Regions from separate parts of the Homo sapiens genome. Here region 2 is linked to region 1. The links come from fine-mapping of genetic effects on gene expression. A gene starts in region 1. The other region holds a variant in brackets. All regions are shown on one strand. Distances are from middle to middle.

What was found. PIP is the estimated chance that this variant, and not a neighbour inherited with it, causes the effect.
Region 2: its variant is the best candidate, but not a certain one, in a credible set for the expression of KCNQ2 in cerebellum (GTEx, PIP 0.70).

The regions. Positions count from the first base shown.
Region 1 is chr20:63,469,883-63,475,383 of GRCh38, reverse strand. It overlaps KCNQ2 (potassium voltage-gated channel subfamily Q member 2), which reads left to right and starts at 2,729. Exons shown (of 17, transcript NM_172107.4): 1 at 2,729-3,216. The coding sequence starts at 2,921. RefSeq lists an enhancer at 4,900-5,501.
Region 2 is chr20:63,414,157-63,419,349 of GRCh38, reverse strand. KCNQ2 (potassium voltage-gated channel subfamily Q member 2) reads left to right here. Exons shown (of 17, transcript NM_172107.4): 13 at 4,224-4,447; 14 at 5,157-5,193. Among named protein-coding and RNA genes, the nearest start is that of KCNQ2-AS1, 32 kb to the left of the region's middle. RefSeq lists an enhancer at 1,147-1,794. The variant A/G (reference allele first, on the strand shown) is at 2,778.

The DNA of each region.
Region 1 (5,501 bases):
CGCTGCTGCCCTGGCCGCCTGGGCGAAGACTGACTGTCTCCTCCGCTGGAGCTGGGCACCACGTACGTCTGAATTCTGCTCATCCTCTCTGGAGTCCTGTCGATGCGGTCTTGGCAAAGATTGTTTGAGCCTGAACGCTTTTCCCATCTATTTTTACATAAATGGAATTCCTCCTGCTTGGATGAAATTTACCCCAACTGGGCATTTTCACGACCCACTTTGCCTGGGCGCAGAGGAGGGGACAGGGGGCAGGCATGCGGGTAACCAGATTGCTGACAATGTAGCCCGTGGGTGTGCAAGACACAAAATTAAAAACATAAATGATTAATGAGCTAGCTCTTTGAAAGGACATCCTAAACAAAGGAGGAAGCAAGGATTTTCAAGCCTTGATGCAGGATTCACTTTCCAGAACCTTCCAAGGTGTGGCAAAGCTGCTGGAGCCAACGCCATTTGTAGACGGGAGAACCGCGAGCTGCAGGGTGCAAAGCTCCACCTGCATCCTGAGCCGGCCCCTCCAGCCCGGCATCCCCACGGGGGATGCCACTCTCGGCCACCCCCAGGAGGCTGTGAAGCCAGCCGATGGCTCCCCAAGACCTCAGCAGGGTTTTCCCCTTTTTTTTCTGAAAAATAAGATGAACAGGTTTGTCTCTCCCAATGTCCTGGACACCAGAGCACCTTAATCCTTGCTCCCATCTCAGCTCTGGTGCATCTGCTCAAACGGGAACTGGGGTCACTTTTCCTTCATCCTCTGTGGATCAGCCCTGACCTTGGGTCCCACTGGGCTCTGACATCAAACCTGAGATGACTGCTTGCCCAGGAGAGGTCACGTGTAGCCCGGGCACTGCCGAGGGGCACCGGATAGTCTGGGGCTTCCCCCCACAGGATGAGGGGCCCCAGCCCTGCAGGGTTTACATTTTGAGCTACGGCTGCTCCCTCGGGTCTTCTGGTGAGTGGGAAAGACCAGCGGCACCAGCCAGCGTGTGCAGGGAGATGCCACGGTGCTCTCTTCCTTCTGCATACTGAAGTCCTCTCCCTCCCCTGAAAGCACCAGGCTGGTGCCTCCTCCCTTAACAATCGAGAGAAACCGCAGCCGCTTGGGGCAAGCCCACTTCATGCTGGTAATCACAGCCAATGCGTGGGCACAGAGGCAGGGAGGCGGGGATCCAGAAAGTACCCCTGGATGTGCACAAGCTTGTGTAAGTTGCCGTCTATCCCCAACGTCCTGGATAACGTACAGGTTAGCATTCTGCCTGCACCGACCCTTCTGTATTCAGCCTAGTTAAAAACAAAACAACAACAACAAAAACAGGCCCCGTGGCCACTAGCTCTGGAAACCAAAGGGCAAACACAACTCAAGAGCTCACTCTGCACCAGGGTTAGGGCTGTTTTATGAGCAGGTCACCTGCGAGGACGGCGCCAGCGATTCAGCAGAGGGCCTTTCTCTGGGTAGAACCCATGGTGCCAGGCGAACGTGCAAACAGGCTGGATGTAGTCAGAGACGCACTCGAAGATGACACCCCTCCTGGATGTGCAGAGGAAGGCCCAGTGGCGGGGCACCTCACAGGGCGGGCAGCACTGAGCCGCAGGGGTCCCTTGGTCTCCCAGCAGCAGCTCCAGAGGGACCCCTCCCAGGACACATGGCTGCCGGCAGGGGGGAGGCCACCTCCGCGCACTTGCCCCCAAGGAAACACCGTCCCATCTGTGTCCAGGAGGCACAGATCTGCCTCCTTTGTCCCGAGGTGTGGCACTGGGCTTCCTGCTGGCCTGTCTGCTGCCCTGGGGCCACCCTCCAGTCCCTGCCCCTGCCACAGGCCCCTTCTGGGGTCTGCATAACTAAGTCCAGGCCCCTTGGGGGGCTTCAAGGCCCTCTAGGAGTGACTCTCTCCCATCCCCCACCCCATGGCCCTTGCTCCTCTTCTTGCCTCCCGGCCTCTGTGGCCACCCCCTTTCCCCTGGGCTGCTTTCCTTGCAGGGTGCCTCCAGCCTCCACAGACCCTCCCTGCACACACCCTGGGGTCTAGGGGGTCCTACTGCCTGGGCAACCCTGACACCGAGAGCATGAGGTCACCATGGGCTGAGCCCTAACAGAGTCTTGGGGAGAGCCCCTACCCCCATCCCTTCCCGGAGGCGTCCACTCCCAGGGCCCAGCTGAGAAGACTCCAGTCCTGCTCAGGCGGCTGGGCACCGCTCTGGGACCCCAGGAGCGCTGGGGCCACCAGGCAGGTCCACTTGGTTAGTACTACCGGACTCAAAGGTGACCGCAGGGTCAGTGTGCACATGGCCGGGGGATTGGGCAGGCTCAGCCCAGAGCTCTGGTCCCGCGGGCCTTGGTCCCTTCTGCCTCCCCCTCCTCTCCCCCTGCCCTCCCCTCCCCCTCCCCCACTCCCCCTCCTCTCCCCCCTCCCCTCCCCCTCCACTCCTGTCTCCCCCCTCCACTCCTGTCTCCCCTCTCCCCGTCCCCGCCACTCTCCTCCCCTCCCATTCCCCTCTCCTCCCCTCCCCCTCCCCTCCTGTCTCCCCTCTCCCCGTCCCCTCTCCCTCCCCTCCCCTCCCTTTCCCTCTTCTCTCCTCCCCTCTCCTCTCCTTCCCCCCTCCCCTCCCCTCCCCGTCCCTCCCTCTCCCCTCCCTTCCCCTCCCTCTCTTCTCCTCCCCTCTCCTTCGACTGGCGTCGCGGGGGTTAACGCGGGGCGGGGCGAGGCGGCGGGCGGAGCCGGCGCGGCCGCGGGCCAGGCGCCGAGGTGCGCGCGGAGCGAGGTGGCCGCAGCGTCTCCGCGCGCGGCCCAAGCCCGGCAGGAGTGCGGAACCGCCGCCTCGGCCATGCGGCTCCCGGCCGGGGGGCCTGGGCTGGGGCCCGCGCCGCCCCCCGCGCTCCGCCCCCGCTGAGCCTGAGCCCGACCCGGGGCGCCTCCCGCCAGGCACCATGGTGCAGAAGTCGCGCAACGGCGGCGTATACCCCGGCCCGAGCGGGGAGAAGAAGCTGAAGGTGGGCTTCGTGGGGCTGGACCCCGGCGCGCCCGACTCCACCCGGGACGGGGCGCTGCTGATCGCCGGCTCCGAGGCCCCCAAGCGCGGCAGCATCCTCAGCAAACCTCGCGCGGGCGGCGCGGGCGCCGGGAAGCCCCCCAAGCGCAACGCCTTCTACCGCAAGCTGCAGAATTTCCTCTACAACGTGCTGGAGCGGCCGCGCGGCTGGGCGTTCATCTACCACGCCTACGTGTGAGTGGCCGGCGGGGCCCCCGTGGCGACCCCCATGGCGACCCCCATCGGCGACCCCATCGGCGACCCCGGCCAGGCTGGCTGCGGCGGGTTTGGCTCCCTGCCCCTGGGTCTGGGTCCGGGGCCGGCGCTCCCCGGCGGGAGTGCTGGGCCGAGACCGGAGAGCGATTGTACAGCGCGCGGGCAGGAAGGATTCCGGGGTCGGGGCCGCTCAGGTCGGGGTGGGGGCTCCAGGCCCGCAGGACAGAGACGTGCGGCCGCCCCAGCCCCCTCCTCAGCCTGGGAGGCCCCTCCCCGCGGCCTCTGCGCCGAACAAAGGGCCGGCCGGGGAGGGACGGCGGCAGCGCTGGGTCTGGACTCTCCGGGACTCTCGGGGACCCGCGGGGCTGGGGCCGCCCGACCAAGCGAGGGCGGGGGGGAGGGGTCTGGCCTGTCCTCCGCCATCCTCCCGAGCCGCTCTCCCTCAGACTAGGGTGAGCTTCTGGGTTCCTGAGATGGGGGAGGGGCCCTCCCATGACCCCCCCACCCCAGCCCGGGCTGAGCGCAGCTGTCTGTCCTGCCCCCTCGGCGCCGACGCCCCTCCCTGGCCCCGCGAACCCCCTCAGCTCCTGCGCTCAGCTCCTGCGCTGTCCCATCTCTGCAGCCGCCGGCCGCCCCCGTGCACATCCCGGGCTCAGGACCCCTCCTTGGCAGAGCGAGGCCCGGGGGAGGGGCTGCGGCAGACCTGGGACCCCCAGCCCTGGGCCTGGAAGGGGCTGTCCCCTCTTCCCGGGCGAGGCTCAGGGAACGGCTGCCTCCTGGGGCAGGGCTGGCGGGGGGCGGCCGAAGCCTGCGTCCGTGTGCACCTGGGTGTTCGCATGTGGAATTGCACGGCCCGCTGCGTGTGCGGCCTGTGCGGCCGGTGTGCACAGCCTCCCCGCGCCAGGGCGCTTGCTCTCCCATCCCAGCTGAACAAGGGACCCGCTGAGCTCCGGGACCGGCCATTTTGTGTGAGAGGCATTTTGGGATGGGAGTGAGGGGCAGACTGGTCACAAGCTGGTCGGGCGCCCACCTGGGCCGAGAGGGGTGTGTGCCCCACGAGTGTGCCCCAGCCTGCGTGTGGCCTTGAGTGTGCCCTTAGCAGACCCTCCGTGGACTGTGATATGAGAGGGTTCTGGGGTAGGGAGAAGATCCCAGAGGGAAATGCCAGGCCGCTTACAGGGAGGGTGTCTCCGTGGAGGGCCCCTGGGCACCCAGCCTGGGACTCCCCAAGCAGAAGCTTCTCCGACCTCCTGGGTCCTGGAAGCCCTGTGGCCCCCAGGAGGTGAGTCTAGCTTTTCCAGTCCAGGGTTCATTCCCGAATCCCCAGATGAGCTTCTGTGTTCTCAGGAATGGCCTCCCCTGATGGCCCCCACCTGGCTGGGGGCCAAAGGGGCTCTTGGTGGGCCGGTACTGGTCAGCCAGGTCCCTGCCCAAGGTGACTCCCCGGAGGAGGGTAGGATAGAACCCACCCCCACAACCCTCCTGCCCTGACAGCCTGGCCAGCGCCCCGCTCTGCGTCTGACCCAGGGTTGGTTCTGCTTTGAGTCCATGATCCAAGGGCCCAGCGTGGCTGTTCCTGAGGTTTCCCGTTGGGTCAGCAGCTCTCCGCATGGCCGCCCCCTGCCTGGGCCTGCGTGGGTCAGCCCCTCTGTCTCTCCTTCCTGTCTCTGCCTCCTGAGAGCAGCAGTCCAGAACTGGGGCAAAGCATGGGGACACTTGCACATGTGGGGTCTGAGCCGTCTCTTCCTGACCACCCCCAGTCCGGACGGGCCCCCTCTAAGATAGAGCAGCAGCATGCGGGGGCTTCAGGCGAGACCCTCAACGTCTGAACAGCCCCGCCTTCCAGCCTGCACTAGGCCTCTCCTCAGCTCCTTTGCTGTGGGCACGGAGCTCCCTGAACCTCCCTGAGCTCCCAGGCTCTCCTCAGCTCCTTTGCTGTGGGCAGGGGTGGCTTGGACTCAGGGAGGCGGCCCCTTTGGGAGGGGGATTTTTTCTAAGCGGCGGGGCTGGAGAGCAGGGTTTCTGGTCCTGCCTCGGGTTGGACACTGGGGGCTGGTCTCAGAACCTCTGCAAACCTCAGTTTTCCGTCGGTAACGTCGGCACAGCTGCTTCTCAACCCAGGGCTTTGTGAACACCACTGCTGGGGGGCATCACACTCTTCCAGGCCGGCCCAGTGCCCTCTGTGAAAGGGGATGTGGCTCAGCACTGCTGGTGCAGCTCACCGCCCGGCTCCCAGACCCCTGGTGTGGTGTTTGCTGCTGTCC
Region 2 (5,193 bases), 56 kb after region 1:
CAAGGCGTCCGTGCCTCCTGGGGTCCCCGACTGCTCTTCAGGGAGCGTTTCCCCTGGGGCTGTCACTCTAGCACCTCTGCTGCGTACCTGAGGATGACTGAGCCTTCCTGGCTGCCTCGACCGCGGGAGGCAGCTCCGTCTGTGTGTGCCGGGCTCCTCAGGGTCCTGATGCATCAGAAGCCCCAGAAAGCCAGAGGCCCGCGGCTCCCTCTCCCAACAACAGGCCTGGTTTAGGGCAGGTGGAAATAGGACGGGGGAGGAGCCGCCCCCTTTGCACCGTGGGCTCCTGGCCTGCACCGTGACCCGCACCTCCCCTGTCCCCGCGTCCCCTGTCTGCTGTTGGGTGTGTGCAGGCCTGCGCTGGGGGCCCCTCCCTCCTGGCCAGCACAGCCCAGCAAGGTGGAGGTGGCTGTGTCGTGCTCCTGTGGGGCTCTCCTTGGCATGTGCATGCCGCCGGTGGTGCTGGCCTTGGAGGGCTGGTGGGGCTGCATGCTGCCTATCTGCATCCGTGCATGCTTCGGACCCTGCTCCATGGGGGGCCCGCGACTCCATGCCACCCTCTCCCTGTGACTTTGCTGCTTGTGTGCTTCTGGGGGCGTTGGTGCTTGCGGGGAGACTGTTGGCAGCTCCAGAGAGGGAGACGGGCGTGTGGGCTGCCTGGGGCATGGCCTGCTGGGGCGCTAGCAGCTGTCCTGCGTGTCCGGAGCATCTATTCAGGGTGCTTCTGGCCGCAGGCTGGTCCCTCAGGGCAGGGGCTGAGGTCAGGCTGCTTGGGGACCAGAGGGGTTTGAAAGTGGGGGTGGGAGCCCAGGCCAGAGAACAACCCAGGGCAGGCCCTGTCCTGCTGCGAGCAGCCCCCACGGGAGGCCCCTTCATCCTCACGCTTCCTGGGCGTCGTTGGTCCGGACACCAGCTGGGCAGGGGTCTGGATGCTCCTCAGCCTCCTGTTTCCTGCGGGCACCGCACATCTGAATTTCACCATTGGGAGGGAGGGTGGCAGGCCGGGTGGGGATGGCGCGCTCTCAGGTGCTTCTTGAGCCTGCCCCGGCCCCGTAAGCCCCAAGCGTAGGTGCCACGGACGCCCCTCGCACACAGAGGGCAGCTCTGGCCGAGGGCTCCTCCCAGGTGGGTGGCGGCAGCTTTTCGCGTGCGCTTGTTCTTGGCTTGTGGCCGAGGGAGGGCCTGCGAGACCACGCGTGCTCCTGGCAGCTGAGGCAGGCTGGCGGGGTCGGGTGTCTGCAGCATGGAGCCTCACCAGCTGTGCTTGGAGGGTGCAGAGTTTGGGTCATGGTGGAGGTCCAGGGGAGGGAAGGACATGTCCAGGTCGCGCCACCCTCCTCTTCCTGGCAGAGCCTCCCTCGCAGATCTGAGGTGGGAGCGGAGCCCGAGACCCGGGACAGCAGGGCCGCGCCGAGGCCAGGGCAGGCTCCTTCCCGCCGGCTCTGTCTGGGGCAGTACACGTGGGCTGCGTCCCGGCGGCCCCTGGGGCTGTGCTGGGCATCGGGTCCAGCAGGGTGTGTCTGCCGCTGGCGGGGCTGTGGCTCCTTGTCGTGGTCAGCGGGGGGTCCCCCCTGAAAAATGGGAAGCAGACGTCGGGGCTGGGTCTTCTCTCCTGGGGCCTGTGGAATCCACGCCACTCCCTTCCTGCAACTCCCTGCGGACTGTGGGGCCTGACCCTTCCTGGCCCGCACGTCTGTGTGGCCGCCTGGGTATTTGACCCGTTCCCCTCCGGGGCCGCAGGTGGGAATCTGATGCCCATTCCTCAAGCTGTGCCTTTCCCACTGCAAGCCCTCAGCACCGGGCTCTGCCCAGAGACCAGCCAAGGGCAGCCCCGAAGCTACAGTTGGGCCGACCGGCTCTGTCCTCCACCCGGTGCTTTGCCAGCTGCCGTGAGAAAGGAGGTGGCTGCTTCTCTCTCTGGTGACTGGACCTGCCTCGGGTGGAAACGCAGAGAGAGGAATTGAGTCTTCCAGTGACTCCCACTTGCCCTGAGGCCTGCCTGAGCGGGGTCAGGAGGGGCCTATTCTTGCCTTTGAAATGGCTCGTGCGGTGGAGAAAGAGAGAACATTCCAGGAGTCCCGCTGAGCCTGTGCCCATGTGCTCCCCTGGCCCCCGTCCGGTTCTCCCCGACCACCTGTGCTTTTGTTGTTGGGATGGGGACCAGAGGCCGTTGGGACAGAGGCACCCACAGCACCAGGACTCTGAGCACCCCTGGCCCCCATGGGCACGGTGTGTTGGCCTCAGGCAGTGCAGGGGTGTGGACTCAGGACTGGGGTCCTGAGCGAGCCTGTACCATCGGCTCCTGACGTCCCCAAGCACGCGACGCCTCGGGACTCGGGGGATCTCGGCCACTCCGTCTCTGCTTCCCCGAGCGGGCACAACACCCAGGGGCTTCTTTCTTTCTCTCAGAGACGCCTGAGTGGGGACAGATGGTCTGCTGAGTGGGCACAGATGGTCTGGGCGGTCACCTGCTGCCTGGGGGATGGGGTGGGGAGGGGCAGCCAAGCGATCCGCGTGTCCAGGCCAGGCAGACGGGCGCGGTGGGCTCTCATGTCTGTGGCTGGTTATCTCTGTGCCGTCTGGTGGGCGTGTCTCTCTGGCTGTGGGTCTGGAGTCGGGGCTGATGGTGGCTGCTGACCGGGGCCTCAGTCCCTCGCTGTTGGCTGGGGAGCCGCCGTGGGATCAGGGAGCCCGTGAGGCACTGGGCTTCCTCTCTGAAGTGTGTCAGGGATCTGCGGGGCCTCCCCACCCGAAGGCTTGTTTCAGGCTCCAGCAAC[A/G]GTGCTCTGGGCCCTGCCCAGAACCACCCTGAGAAGTTCCGTGGCTGCTAAGCATGGCTGGGCATGAGCGGGTCCCCAGTTCGTGAGAGCCCCACTGTCCTCAAGGGAGCCAGGGGGTTCTGATGCTTTCCAGACCTCAGGAGGCCACATCTGCCTGGCGTCTCCCAACCACCAACCACAGTGAACCCTCCCCTCCCCTCACTGTCGCCCGGCGGACGCTGGAGTTGAAGAACTCGGGTGCAAACCCATCTCCACGGTCACCAAAAAACTCGGGGGCAAGGCAGGCCCAAGGACCCCCCGAGAGTATGGAGCTGGAGACCCAGCCAGACACAGCTGCAAATCCTGCTTCACGCCTCGCAGGCCGAGGGGGCCGGGCCACAGCGCTGTGGCTTTGGAGGCTGCCTCCCCCTGCCCTGGGGCAGGACTTGGATAGTGAGGCCCAGCTGGCGGAGGAGCCCCGTTATCCATTCCTTCCTTCCAGAAGCCGGAAGGAGCAGTTCTCTGACACGGACCTGGTGGGAGGGGAGCCTGACAGGGGAGGCCTGAGCCCTCCTGAAGCCCATCCCACCAGGCAGGCCCCCGGGGTGGGTGGAAAGGCCGGAGTGTGGCTGAACAAGGGTCCACCGCAGACTTGGCCCCCAATGTCCTTGTTGTCCCCTGGCCCCTCGACTCTGGGGCAGAAGGAGAGGGACAGGCCGTGGGAGGGGAGGAGGGAGGCTGCTTCCTGGGAGCAGTTACGGGTGTGAAAAGGCCACAGGGGAAACCACGGGCGGGGCCGGGGCAGACAGAGGTGCCCGAGGAAGAGCCACAGCCCCGGTGTTTGGGATGCCCGTTGCCCTGAGTGTCACTGGGTGAGGGGCTGGCAGGACAGTGTGAGGAAGGCTCCGGCACCTCGTGGTGGTAGCGGAAAGTGATTTAAGAGTCCACAGACATCAACTCTCCCCACATGGCCAACCTCTGGCCACGCCTGAGCCAGCCGGGGGAGCTTGCTGCCCACCCAGCCTCCCCTCCCTCCCTCCCGCCGGGTGCTCAGTGTCTGTGGCCTCCCCTCCCTCCCTCCCGCCGGGTGCTCGGTCCCCGTGGCCTCCCCTCCCTCCCTCCCGCCGGGTGCTCGGTCCCCGTGGCCTCCCCTCCCTCCCTCCCGCCGGGTGCTCGGCCCCGGTAGCCTCCCCCCCTCCCTCCCGCCGGGTGCTCGGTCCCCGTGGCCTCCCCTCCCTCCCTCCCACCGGGTGCTCGGTCCCCGTGGCCTCCCCTCCCTCCCTCCCGCCGGGTGCTCGGTCCCCGTGGCACCTGCTCTGAGCCACCCGTGTGGCTGGCTGTTCTTCAGACCTGTGTCTCCCTCCGGCGCATGGGCGGCGTCGGCCATGAGCAGACACGGCCTGTGTTCTTTGCAGAGTGACTTCTCTCCCTGTTTTTCTGTCTGTCTGTCGGTTCCCGTGGGAGCAGCCAGAAGGTCAGTTTGAAAGATCGTGTCTTCTCCAGCCCCCGAGGCGTGGCTGCCAAGGGGAAGGGGTCCCCGCAGGCCCAGACTGTGAGGCGGTCACCCAGCGCCGACCAGAGCCTCGAGGACAGCCCCAGCAAGGTGCCCAAGAGCTGGAGCTTCGGGGACCGCAGCCGGGCACGCCAGGCTTTCCGCATCAAGGGTGCCGCGTCACGGCAGAACTCAGAAGGTGGGTGTGGCCGCATCCTCTCCTGGTCCATCCTCTCCGGGGATGGATGTGGTGGCCACGCTACTGTGGCCACCCTGTGGCGTCGCAGCTGCTTTTGCTTGCTCTTGGAGTGGGAACCCCCTATCCTTTCTAAAATTGAGGTGAGACTTGTGCAACCTAAAATTAACTATTTAAAAGTGTAGGAATTCAGTGGCATGTAGCACGCTCACGGTGGAGTTGTCACCACCACCTCAGCCTAGTTCCAGAACATTCTCATCACCACAGAAGGAAACCATGACCCCATCAGTAGTCACCCCATTCCCCGCCTCAGCCCCAGCACCCGCTGCTCTTGGGCCGTGCGTGTCTGCGGCTCCCACGTGGGGCCGTTGGGTCTGGCTTCCTTCACTGAGCCTCAGATGTCAGGCCTGCACCTTCCGCCGTTAACATCTGTGCGTGGATGCGCCATGTTCTGTTCATCCATTGGCCAGAATGTCCTTTGACGCCCCATATCGGCCACTCCCTGTGGCCACAGCCTGCCGGGGAAGGTCCTGACTCGAGAGCAGCTGGGTGCAGATGGGTGGGTTTCCAGAAAAGCAGGTGCACCCGAGGGGCACCACAGGGAGCCTCGAGGGGCTCCCTGGCGCTCTGTCTAGCCGGTGTGCCCTGCAGGACCCCGGGAATAGGTCTCCCGGCCCCCTCGGCCCCTCACGGCCTGTCTCCTTCCCCCCAGAAGCAAGCCTCCCCGGAGAGGACATTGTGGATGACAA